Linked DNA regions of Homo sapiens: region 2 is linked to region 1. Evidence: fine-mapped expression QTL. A gene starts in region 1. The other region holds a variant in brackets. All regions are shown on one strand. Distances are between the middles of the regions.

Region 1 (5,366 bases):
ACAGAGCAGGTACTCAATCTTTGTGGAAGGAAGGAAGGAATGAGTGGCTGGCCCTGAGAGACATTAGCTACTTTAACCCTCATAACAACCCCTGCAAGGTAAGTCATTTAAATCCCGTTCTAAAATGAGAAAACTGAGGCTCAGAGTGGTTAAGTGATTTGGCCAATGTCACAAAGTCAAGAAGTGGCCAAGGTCACAAGAATCAGTCCCCCATCTGGCTGGCTCCAAACACTGTATTCTTTTTTTTTTTTTTTCGCCTGTGGTTGTTTTCATGGTAACTGTCTTAGTGTGACAAACGTGACATTCACTTGCTTTCCTTATTCTAAGCAGAAGATGCTTTAACTTCAGGATTTTGCAAAATCTGCCCAGAACTTGTGCTCATGCACCCGAGAATCTATGGGGGAGCCGGTGCCCCCAAAAGCCAGGAAGAAGTCCCTCTACCAGCCCGAGAGTGGGAAGGCCTCACCAGTCAAACGGAGGGAAGGCCCCTCTTGCAAACACCAAAGGAGAGCCACAATCATTCTAGTTTAGTTTCATCTTTTTCTTGGCTTCATCGTTTTATTTTCCTGAGCACTCACTCTGTCTGATCTTTTCAAGTCCGGGTAACTTTTTGCCATCAATGGCTACCACTCACCATGTGAGTCTCTAGGACAAAAATCTATGTCCCATGAGTTTCCCCAAACTGAACTTGCACACAGACCCATGGACCACAGTGCCCCCGCAAACCCCGATCCCCAAGCCCCACTCATGACTGCATCTTAGGACATTGGGAGCAGCCCCTGGGAAGAGAGCTAAGCCTTTCGGGGGCCATGAAGGTGAATAGGAAGGGCCCAGGCCACCAAAAACCCATCTACCCTCTCATTCCAGGGACCATCATAGCTTGAGTCCCCCTTCATCTGCCTGTCATTCTCAATCACATTAACTCATCTGTTTTGTTTCAATCACTTCTCACTATCTGAAGCTGTGCTGTTTATTTATTTCCATATTTGCTTATCACCTGCCTCCTGAGAGCAGGGTGAGGGCATAAGGGCAGGGGCTTGGTCAGTGCTGTTCACCACTGTTCTGTGACTGGCACAGGTGGGCACGCAAATATTGGGTGAATGAATAAGCAAAGACAGCAGGAAACAAGTGGATTCAGAAGAAAAAAGACCAGGAGGCTCACAAATAAACCCATTTAATCCTAAAATCAACCTGCACAGAAGGTGTCATTATGCCTACACCGCTGGGAAGCCACAAAGTAGACCCAGGACTGTGCAACTCCGAGAGGAAAAGAGAAAATGCTGCAGGTAAGCGGAGAAGCAGGTGAGCCCGACACGGAGGGCAAAGGCAAGCTGCCTCTGGGGCCCAGGGCACTGAACACCATCTCCTCAAAGGCTGACATAACTGAGAAGGGTCCACATTTTCCACCAAGTGGAGCCCGTGTAGGGTCGGTGCTATCTCCATGCCCCTGACACACCATGGCACCTGCGTTCACCCAGAAGGTACCTGCCCACAGCATGCATCCATCATTGAGAGTGCGCAAAACCAAGTTCTAATTTCCAGGCACTAATACCATAGGACACAAACATAAACCACCCTCCAGGAGGACACCTGACATCCCTCTCCTTTCTGGGTAGTCTGAAGTGAGAAGGTTGAAAATAGTGCAGATGTCCTTTCTTAGAGCAGCCCCGCCATCCATTCATTCACTCTTTCATTCATTTGTTCAGCCAACATGTGCTCACTGGGCCTGGGGAAGCCCAGGATGAAATGAGACAAACCCTCTGCCCTCTGGCCACGGTGTGCTGGTGCCTGCGCTTTAGGCGGGTACTAAAAGACAAGCAAATATTAAAGATACTCGCTTCCAAAACAAATAAGGCCACGTGGAGCTGTGCACTGGAATGGGATTCTGGATGCAATTTTATTTGATTGGGTACAAGAACCAATCCAGTTAAAGGGGTCATGAACCAACTCCAGGCACCAGGCTCCTACTCAGAGGCTGCCTCAGACCCCCTTCTGGCCCAGGCACCAACCCCTCACCCACCCAACTCCATCTCCCGACATTCTTCAACCACATTCCCATCTCGCTCCACAATATTCTCCCTCCAGGTCCCCCTGACTCTATTTCTCCTCTATTCCCAACCCTGACCTCTCTAGGTCGGCAGCCTTGATGCTACTTCTCCGAACGCCAGGACGCACATCCCAGCCTGCTTTCTACCACCACCCCACACACCTCGAGTCTGCGCTTCCACCCAGAACCCCTTAAACACCATATGTTTACAAACCAGATTCCCCAGGGGTCTATGTACAACACCCCATTCTCAAGACCCCATAAACACATCCTGATTCCCTGAGCACACCATACACACACTGTGGACTTCACCCATGTCCTGAGGGACCCCCTCACCCCATCACCTCCAACTTCTTGGAAGCCCCAGGCCGGCCCCTGACCTCCTGTGGTCCCAGTGGAGCAGCGGACTCGCTGAGACCCCCGGACACCCCAGACTCCGCAGAAGCCCGCCCTGCACGCTTGAACCCCAGGCGCCGGGACAGCCCCTGGCGCCCCCCCGGGCCCCCACACCGCGTGACTCCGGGGCACCCGGGCTCCCCCAGGCCCCGGTCCCGCGCACATCCCCTGGGCCGCAGCTCCCTCGCGGCCCGGCCGCGCCCCTGCCCGCGCCCCGCGCCCGGCCGCGCCTCGGGGGCCCGTTCCCGCGGAGGCCGCGGCGCCCCCCGCAGCCCAGGCCGGCGCGCCCGGAGCGTACCGTTGGCGATGAGCTTGGCCGACAGCTGCTTGACGAGCTCAGGGATCCGCTCCCACTGGCACTCGGAGCGGCAGCGCTCGATCTCCGTCTCCAGCCGCGAGCCTGCCTTCTTGGTCGCCATCGCGGCCTGGCCGGGCCCGGCCGCCCGCCCCGCAGGCCCCACCGCCGCCGCCGCGGCGCCCCCTCGCCGCCTCCCGCCGCCGCCGCGGGCTCGGGCTCCGGCTCCCGGCTCCGCGGCGTAACGGGAGCGCCGGCTGGGGAAGGGGCGGGGAGGCGGGCGGCGGCGGCGGGCGCGGCGGGGCCCCGGGCGCCGCGAGGAGCGGCCCCTGCCGGCCAGGGCCGGAGCCGCAGCACTGACCGGGGCCGGAGCCAGGGCTGGGGCAGGGGCGGGGGCTAGGGCGGGAGACAGGGGCCCGAGGGAGGAAAGGCGGGGTGGGCATGGAGGACAGGGAGAGGGACTGGGGGTGTCTGGGGCGGGGTGAAGACCGAGGGGAAGTGGGGATGGGGGTGGGGGAGCGGGGTAGGAGAGAGATCTGACCAAGGGCGGGTGAGGGGTCTGGTGGGGTAGGGGTCTGGGCAGGATGAAGGGGAGGGAGAGGATCGGGAGGGAGCTAGCGACAGCCTGGGAGCGGGTTGGATCCCCAGGAGTAGGGCCAAGAAAGGGCAGTGACCCTGGGGAAGGTCACCGCCCGGTGGGACCAGTGAGCCAGGTGTGAGGGGTGGGGGGAGGCCTGCCCGAGTTTGTCCTGCCATCTCAGGTGGCCAGCGGTTCCCTGGGGCCCGGTTGGCCTGTGCCCCTTAGCAGATGCCCCTCTGCCCCGCAGCCTTAGCCCCTACCCAGCCAGAGGTGGACGGAGACTCCTCCATCCCAGGCAAGGCACAGCACCTGCCAGGGGTGCCCTAGATGGCTGAGCGGAGCCAGGCAGGGGCTGCCACTCTCACACGCCAGCTCTCGGACCCCCTGAGGGGAAGGCACAGTCACTGGTGGGGCCTCCTGTCTTGGCCACCTAGACTGAGACCTAGGGAGGTGTCCCTCTGTGTTCTCTCAGTGAATCAACTGTCTAGTGATCACCTACTATGTGCTGGGCGCTGCTTTAGGTGCCAGAGATAGAATTGTGAGCTAAAAAAACAAAATTCCTGGCTTGAGAGAGCTTACATTCCAGTTTGGGGGAAAAATAAGCAAAATAAAATAGTAAACTAGACTGTAAAAATGGCTATTTGAAGAAACAGGGAAGGGTTCAGTGAGGAACATAAAGAGTTGGGACAGGCGGGTGGCTCATGCCTGTAATCCCAGCTACTCAGGAGGCTGAGGCAGGATGATTGCTTGAGCCCAGAAGGTGGAGGCTGCAGTGAGCAGTGAACGCACTTCAGCCTGAGCAAGTGTTGCCATTTAAAATGGAGCAGTCAGGGATGGCCTCACGGAGGTGGCATTAGACTTGAAGAAACTAAGGGGGAGCCATGAGGATATCTCTGGGGGAGGAGTATCCCAGGCAGAGAACACCACAAGTGCGAAGGCTCTGGGGTTAGAGCACACTGGGTGGGATGGAGAAATGGCAGAGGCCAGAGGGGCTGGGTGGAGCGAAGGAGAGGGGCCGAGGCAGGAGATGAACTCTGAGAGGTTGGGGGGAGTTCTGTGTAGTGCCTGGTGGGCCATTATAAGACCTTGGCTTTTGGCTGGGCACGGTGGCTCACGCCTGTAATCCCAGCACTTTGGGAGGCCGAGGTGGGCGGATCACGAGGTCAGAAGATCGAGACCGTCCTAGCTAACATGGTGAAACCCGTCTCTACTAAAAATATTTTTAAAAATTAGCCGGGCGTGGTGGCAGGCGCCTGTAGTCCCAGCTGCTGGGGAGGCTGAGGCAGGAGAATGGTGTGAACCCGGGAGGCGGAGTTTGCAGTGAGCTGAGATGGCAGCACTGCACTCCAGCCTGGGCAACAGAGAGAGACTCCGTCTCAAAAAAAAAAAAAAAAACTTTGACTTTTACTCTGGTGACATGGAGCAGCCCTGCAGGGCTTTTCACGGAAGAGTGGCATGATCAGACCTACACTTTGGACTATCACTGTGACTGCAGTGTTGAGAATACTGCCAGGGAAATAGCTGTGGTGGTGGCAGTGTTGGATTCTGGGTCCTGCATTTGAGAGTGAAGCGGTCAGTCTGGAAGGTTCCGTAGCCCGCCCGCAGTCACAAGGAGGCACTGAGGGGTCGTCGTCATTCCTTCTGGGTGCCCTTACTCCAACTTTCCAAGAGCAGTCACACGCAGGTTCTTATCCCCACCACAACTCCCCCACCACCGGAGTTGATGAAGAACACACACTGTGGACCTCAGTTTACCAATGAGGAGGCTGAATCACAGACATTTAAGAGAGGTGAGGAGGAAAGATAAGGAGATGTGTTCTGATGTGACCAGTATCACTTTCAGGTGCCTCAGGGACTGCCAAGGTGATGGAAGTTGAGCTGACAGGCCCTGGACACTGTGAACAGCCCAGGGAAAGGGGAACTAGAACGTTAGAGTTTCAACAGGGGACCCTTTAGTGCCCTGGCCCTTAGCTCCCACCAAGAGGGAGCAGGAAGGGAAGGAGAAGAAATCTCCACAGGAGATGTTTCCTCTCTCCTGACACCCTCCT
Region 2 (5,366 bases), 280 kb before region 1:
GGGCTGGGCTGTGCTCGGCCATGTGCTTGTGTTTTACACACCCTCTGAATCTTTACAACCACCTTGTTCTCCCCATTTCACAGATGAGGAAACCGAGGCTCAGAGAGGACTAGTGACTCACCTAAGGCTCCTAGGAGAGTAGGTGGCCAGGTCCCGATGCAGGCTCCAGCCCAGCAGGCCCACAACCCGAGCCCTTGGGCCACAGGCACCGCCTCAGGCAGTGGCGGATGGGAGCCTCCTGTGCTGTGACCAAGTGGGACAGGGATGCATGACCCTCCTCAGGCCTTGGCTGGACCCAGGGCCCGAGGATGACCCTGTGGGGTCAAGGAGGCAAAGACAAGAGTGGTGGCGGTCACAGAGGCCCCCAGCCATGCCCATGCTGACCAGGCCCCTCACCTCCTCCTCCATGCAGAGCGGGACTCGGACTCTGCCTCAGCTGCAGCTAGCTCTGCCCTTCCTGCCCTGCTTCAGGGACCCCTCAGCACGTCCCAGCAGCCACTCACCCCTCGCCTGAGGATAGAAGAAAGAAGGAAAGACTTTATGGTGCACCCCGGGGGCCCCATGCCCTGTCCAGGTTGACCTCTGTTAATATCCCCAAAAGCCCGTAAGGGAAGTTACTCCCCGACCATAGAGATGAGGAGACAGAGTGCTTCCCCATCAGAGGTGACACGGCCAGGCAGAACTGGGATTCCAGCCAGATCTGTGTGACCCACAGCCCAGTGGTCACCAGGAAACCCTATTGTCCTCAGGGGGTCAAGGGCCAAACAGCAGAAGATGAGGGAGACGAGGAGGGTGGTGGGGGCTGTGGGTGGCCCGGATGGTCAGCGGGAGCTGCTGGCTCCAGGCAGACCTGCAGAAGATCCCCCACCACCTTCCTGCCACCTCTCCATAGTCAGCCCCACTCAGGGCTTGAGTGTCCAGGAGGAGTCCTGCCTGCTGGCCTGGCCCTGAGGCCCTGTGTGGTGGTCCTGAGGGGCGGTAGCCCTCGTGTCCCCTACCTGGCACACACCACCTCTGACAGCTGCCTGCAGACTCACATCTCAGCCCAGAAGGCAGGCTGGGCAGAGGTGACTGTCCTCATCTGATTCTGAGTCCAGGGAGGGACAGTGGCACAGTGAGGATCACCCCCAGCAGGTGCAGAGCTGGAGTGGGTCCCCCACGGTGTGACCTTGAGGGGGGGCCTCAGCCTGGCCCCCAAAAGACCTTCAGGAGGAGCACATTCCTGTCTGAAATGGTGCAGGATGTCCTTTTTCTGTTCCTATCTGGCTGCAGCGTGGGCAGGGGCAGCAGGAAATGCATGACCACAAGTGTGGGAGGAATGTTAGTGGCGGGAACGGCCGCAGCCCTAAGGCTCAGCCCTGGGGCTCGGCCCATTTTCCTGTGTGGGGTCCTCAGGCCCAGTGCGGCTGCTACTGCCCGCCTCCCCCGGAGGACTCCGGCCAGGCCTCAAAGGCTTATGGTCAAGTGTGTGGCTGCTTCTGGAGTAGGCAGGATGGACAGGGCAAGCAGACGCTAGGGGAGGGATGGGAGCAGCCACCTGGTACAGTGCCCAAGACACAGTTTACAGAACTTCAATATGAGTGGTGTCCCCTCACTGGGCAATGCCCACCCTGTCGGCCTTGAGAGGTGGTGGGGGAGGAGCAGGAATGAGAAGGTGGCGATATGGAGAGAGGGGGCCGAGTGGCAGGGGCCGAGCGCTGGGAGGGTATGGGGGCATTGGAGGGAGACAGTGGCCAGAGTGGCTGACCCTGCCCTGAAATTCCTTCAGTAGGGCCGGGTCACCCATTCCAGCCTGGAGCCGGCTGTGCTGCAGGGACCTGGGCTGGGGCTGGGGCAGCAGGTGACAGGCTGGTGACAGGCCCAGCACGGACAGGGCAGACGTGGAGAACTCCAAGGATGATGGGGAGGGTGCCTGCAAAGGGGGGACTTCCTGCAGGCAGAGAGTCTGGGCCCGCAATGATGACTGTGTGGCCGCCGGGGAGATGCGTGGGGCCATCTGGAGGAGTCTGGGTTGCTCCATGTGATCACAGACACGCCCACCTGTGCACGAGCATGCACCTCCCCCAGGCCATGACCACAGGTAGGGGGCATGGAGGATAACGGGAGGCCTTGGTTCCCTCCTTTCCCCACCGAGGGAGGTCCCCACGCAGCCCTGAGGGTGAGCAGAGCCCTGGCCACAGCCCAGGGCCCAGGACCTGGAAGGAGGCAGAGAGACAGACAGACGAGCCCATGGATCCCAAATGGGGCTGGGGATGGGAAGTGGCCTGCCCCGGCCACACCTGCCCAGGCCCCCAGCCTGGCTCTGTCCTGAGATCCTCTTGGCTGAGTGGGGCGGCTCCTTCAAAGAAGGGCCTCCTCCCTCCTCTGCCTCCTCCTTCCCTTCCTGGTCCATTCGCCACCCCACCCTGCCCGAAGTTGGCTCCCTGCTCACTGAGGAGTGGGTGCCCCGTCCCCAGGGCTCCCTGGCTTGGGGGTACCCAGGCCTCTGCCTCCCTGCTGCTGCTGCTCTGGGGAACCACCAGGCCCCCAGCCAAGGCAGCCCCCCTCAGCTTCCCTCTCTCCTTCCTCACGCCTGCCCTGCTGGAAACACAAGGTGCTCAGCGAGGCCGCCTTCAACACTCAACACGGCCCCTTCCCCACCGGACTCCTAACCTGTGTTCTCAGCTCCCCTCTGCAGCTACGCTCTTGAAAGAGACTTCACCTTTTCCTCCCCCTTGAGCCCACTCCAACCTGGCTTGACCCCACCTTAGTCAGCTTGGGCTGCCGTAAGAAAACCGCCACAGACAGGTGGCTTCAACAATGAACTTAATTTCTCACAGTCCTGGAGGTTCAAAGAACAAAGCAAAGGTTCCAGCCCATCTGGGTTCCTGTGAGGCTCCCTCCTGGCTTGC[G/A]GGTGGCCGCCTTCTCCGTGTGTCCTGGCGTGGCTGAGCGTGAGCTCACTTGCACTTTAGAGTTTCTTCTGGTGAGGACGCCAATCCTACTGGGCCAGGGCCCCTCCTGATGACCTCACTTCACCTGAATTACTTCCTTAAGGGGCCTATCTCCAAATATAGTCACACAGGGGCGGGGGCTCCACCCTATGAATCTGGGGGAGCAAAACTGCATCCCCAGCATGGCTCTGGTCAAGGTCACTGCCAACCTGCACACCACCAGGCCCACGGTCAGCTCTCAGGCCACCCTGACGGGGTCTCCAGGCATTGAGAGAGCCCACCCACCTCCTCCAGGAAGCTCACCCTGCCTGCTCTCCGCCTCCCTTGCAGCTGCTCCTGCGCCTTCTTTCCTGATCTCTTCATTTCCCAGCCTGTAAACCCCGCCAGCCCCGGAGCTCAGCCCTGACCTCTTCCTCTTTGTCTATGCTTGTCCCGAAGTGGCCCCGTCAGGCCCATGGCTCCCAGCCCCGCATCCCTGACACCTCCCACACTCTCGCCTCATCTTGGGCTCTCGCCTGGGCTCCTGCCCAGCCAGCTGCCTCCCCCTCAGAGGCTCCACAGGCATTTTGTATTCAACCTGCCTGAAAGCAGACTCCTGCCTTCTCCTCTCCTCCCCAACCTATTCTTCCTGTTTCCTGGCCATCATCGCCATCCTTCCAGTAGCTCAGGACAAGACCCTCACCCTCATCCCTGGCGTCTCCCCTCCCTCACACCCAGCTCCATGTGTGAGCAACCCTCTTGGCTCTGTCTTCAGAATCTTCACAGTCCAGTGCCTCTCGCCACTTCCTCCACGCCCCTTGGTCTAAGCACCATGGTCGCTGTGTGACAGCAGGAGCCTGACAGCCTCCCAGCTCCCACGCTGCGGCCTGCAGAATAACGTGCTCCCCCTGCCCCTCAAAGACGTCCACATCCCGAGCCCTGGAACCTGTGACTATGTTGCCTTCCATGACAGATGGAGCGATGCAGATGTGATTGAACGAAGGCTCTCGAGGTGGGGCAATGGCCCTGGACTATCCAGGGGGCCCAGAGCAACCAGCAGAGTCCTTAGAGGGAGGCAGGAGGTCAAAGGCAGAAAGGTGACGCAGTGACGGAGCAGAGGAAGGAAAGGTGACGTGAGGTGGCCACGAGCCAAGGCCGCAGGAAGCCTCTAGCCGCTGGAGAAGACGGGGACACCCGTCCTCCTCCAGAGCCTGGGGAAGGAGCACAGCCCCACTGAAAGCTTGATTTGACTTCTGACCTCCAAAACAAAGAGAATAAATTTGTGTTAAGACGCTAAGTTTGCGGTCATTTAAAATTTTTAATTTATTTTATTTGTAGAGATAGGGTCTTGCTCTCTCATGCAGGCTGGACTGCGGTGGCGTGATCACTCACTGCAGCCTCAACCACCTGGGCTCAAGCAATCAGCCCATCTCAGCCTCCCAAGCAGCTGGGACTACAGGTGCACGCCACCAAACCTGGCTATTTTTTTTTTTTTGTAGAGATGGGGGGGGGGTCTCACCATGTTGCCCAGGCTGGTCTTGAACTCCTGGCCTCAGCTGATTCTCCTGCCTCAGCCTCCCTAAGTGCTGGGATTACAGGCAGGAGCCACCATGCCCAGCCAGTTTATGGTAATTTGCTGCAACCACAGGCAATTAATATACACTGTTAGCATGGTCCACGAGGCCGCACCTGTGTGGCCCCTGTTAAACTTCTGACCTCTTCTCATCCTTCACCACCTGACCATCCCCCTCCCCTCTGGGCCTTTGCACCTGCTGTTCCTGCTTCCTGAGATGTCCTCCTCCCAGGTTACCTGTCTTTCTTCAGCCAGATGTCACCTTCTTAGCGAGGCTTCCCTAGTCACCTTCTAAACAGCAGCCCTGCCACTCCCTACACCCCTTCCCTGGCTTCATCTTTCTCCATGCGTCACCCCACCTGCCATACTCCTCATCTGTCTGTTTCCTTCTACCAGAAGGTAGGTCCTAAGTGGATGCAGCATCTGTGTCACACATTGCTGTGCCCTCAGTGCCTGGAATAAGCATCTGGCATGTTGTGAGCATTCCATAGATATTTGTTGGATGAATGAATGAGTGAATGAATGAATGAAATTTCACAGATGGGGAGACTAAGACCAGGGAACAGGAACGCCTTGCCTAAGTTAGGGTCAGCACTAGTCCTGGAATCAAACGCGGCATCTCCTGCATCTCACTGTCCAAAAAATGCCTCCACTGGGCAGACCTGGGCACTTTTGAAATGTTTATCCCTCAGGCCTGTCTCAATCTTAGTTCTGCCAGGTAATTCCACAATGACCCCAGGCAGGTGTCCTGCCGTCTTAGTGTCTAGCGTCTGCGTCCTCATCTATTAATGGATGGACGGATGGATGGATGGATGGATGGATGGATGGATGGATGGATGGACGGACGGACGGACGGGTGGACGGATGAATGGATGGATGGATGG

Which allele goes with the higher level. Alleles are on the strand shown, and positions count from the first base shown. SD is a standard deviation of normalised expression in the study named.
As copies of A replace G in region 2, the expression in testis of the gene that starts at base 2,997 in region 1 goes down (moderate effect, 0.45 SD a copy in GTEx).

The links.
Region 2: its variant is fine-mapped to the expression of TTC7B in testis (GTEx, PIP 0.92).

What each region holds. Positions count from the first base shown.
Region 1 is chr14:90,813,434-90,818,799 of GRCh38, forward strand. TTC7B (tetratricopeptide repeat domain 7B) reads right to left here and starts at 2,997. Exons shown (of 20, transcript NM_001010854.2): 1 at 2,742-2,997. The coding sequence starts at 2,862. RefSeq lists a silencer at 2,991-3,170.
Region 2 is chr14:90,532,962-90,538,327 of GRCh38, forward strand. TTC7B (tetratricopeptide repeat domain 7B) reads right to left here. Exons shown (of 20, transcript NM_001010854.2): 20 at 1-5,366. Among named protein-coding and RNA genes, the nearest start is that of LINC00642, 80 kb to the left of the region's middle. RefSeq lists enhancers at 210-710, 745-1,575. The variant G/A (reference allele first, on the strand shown) is at 2,892.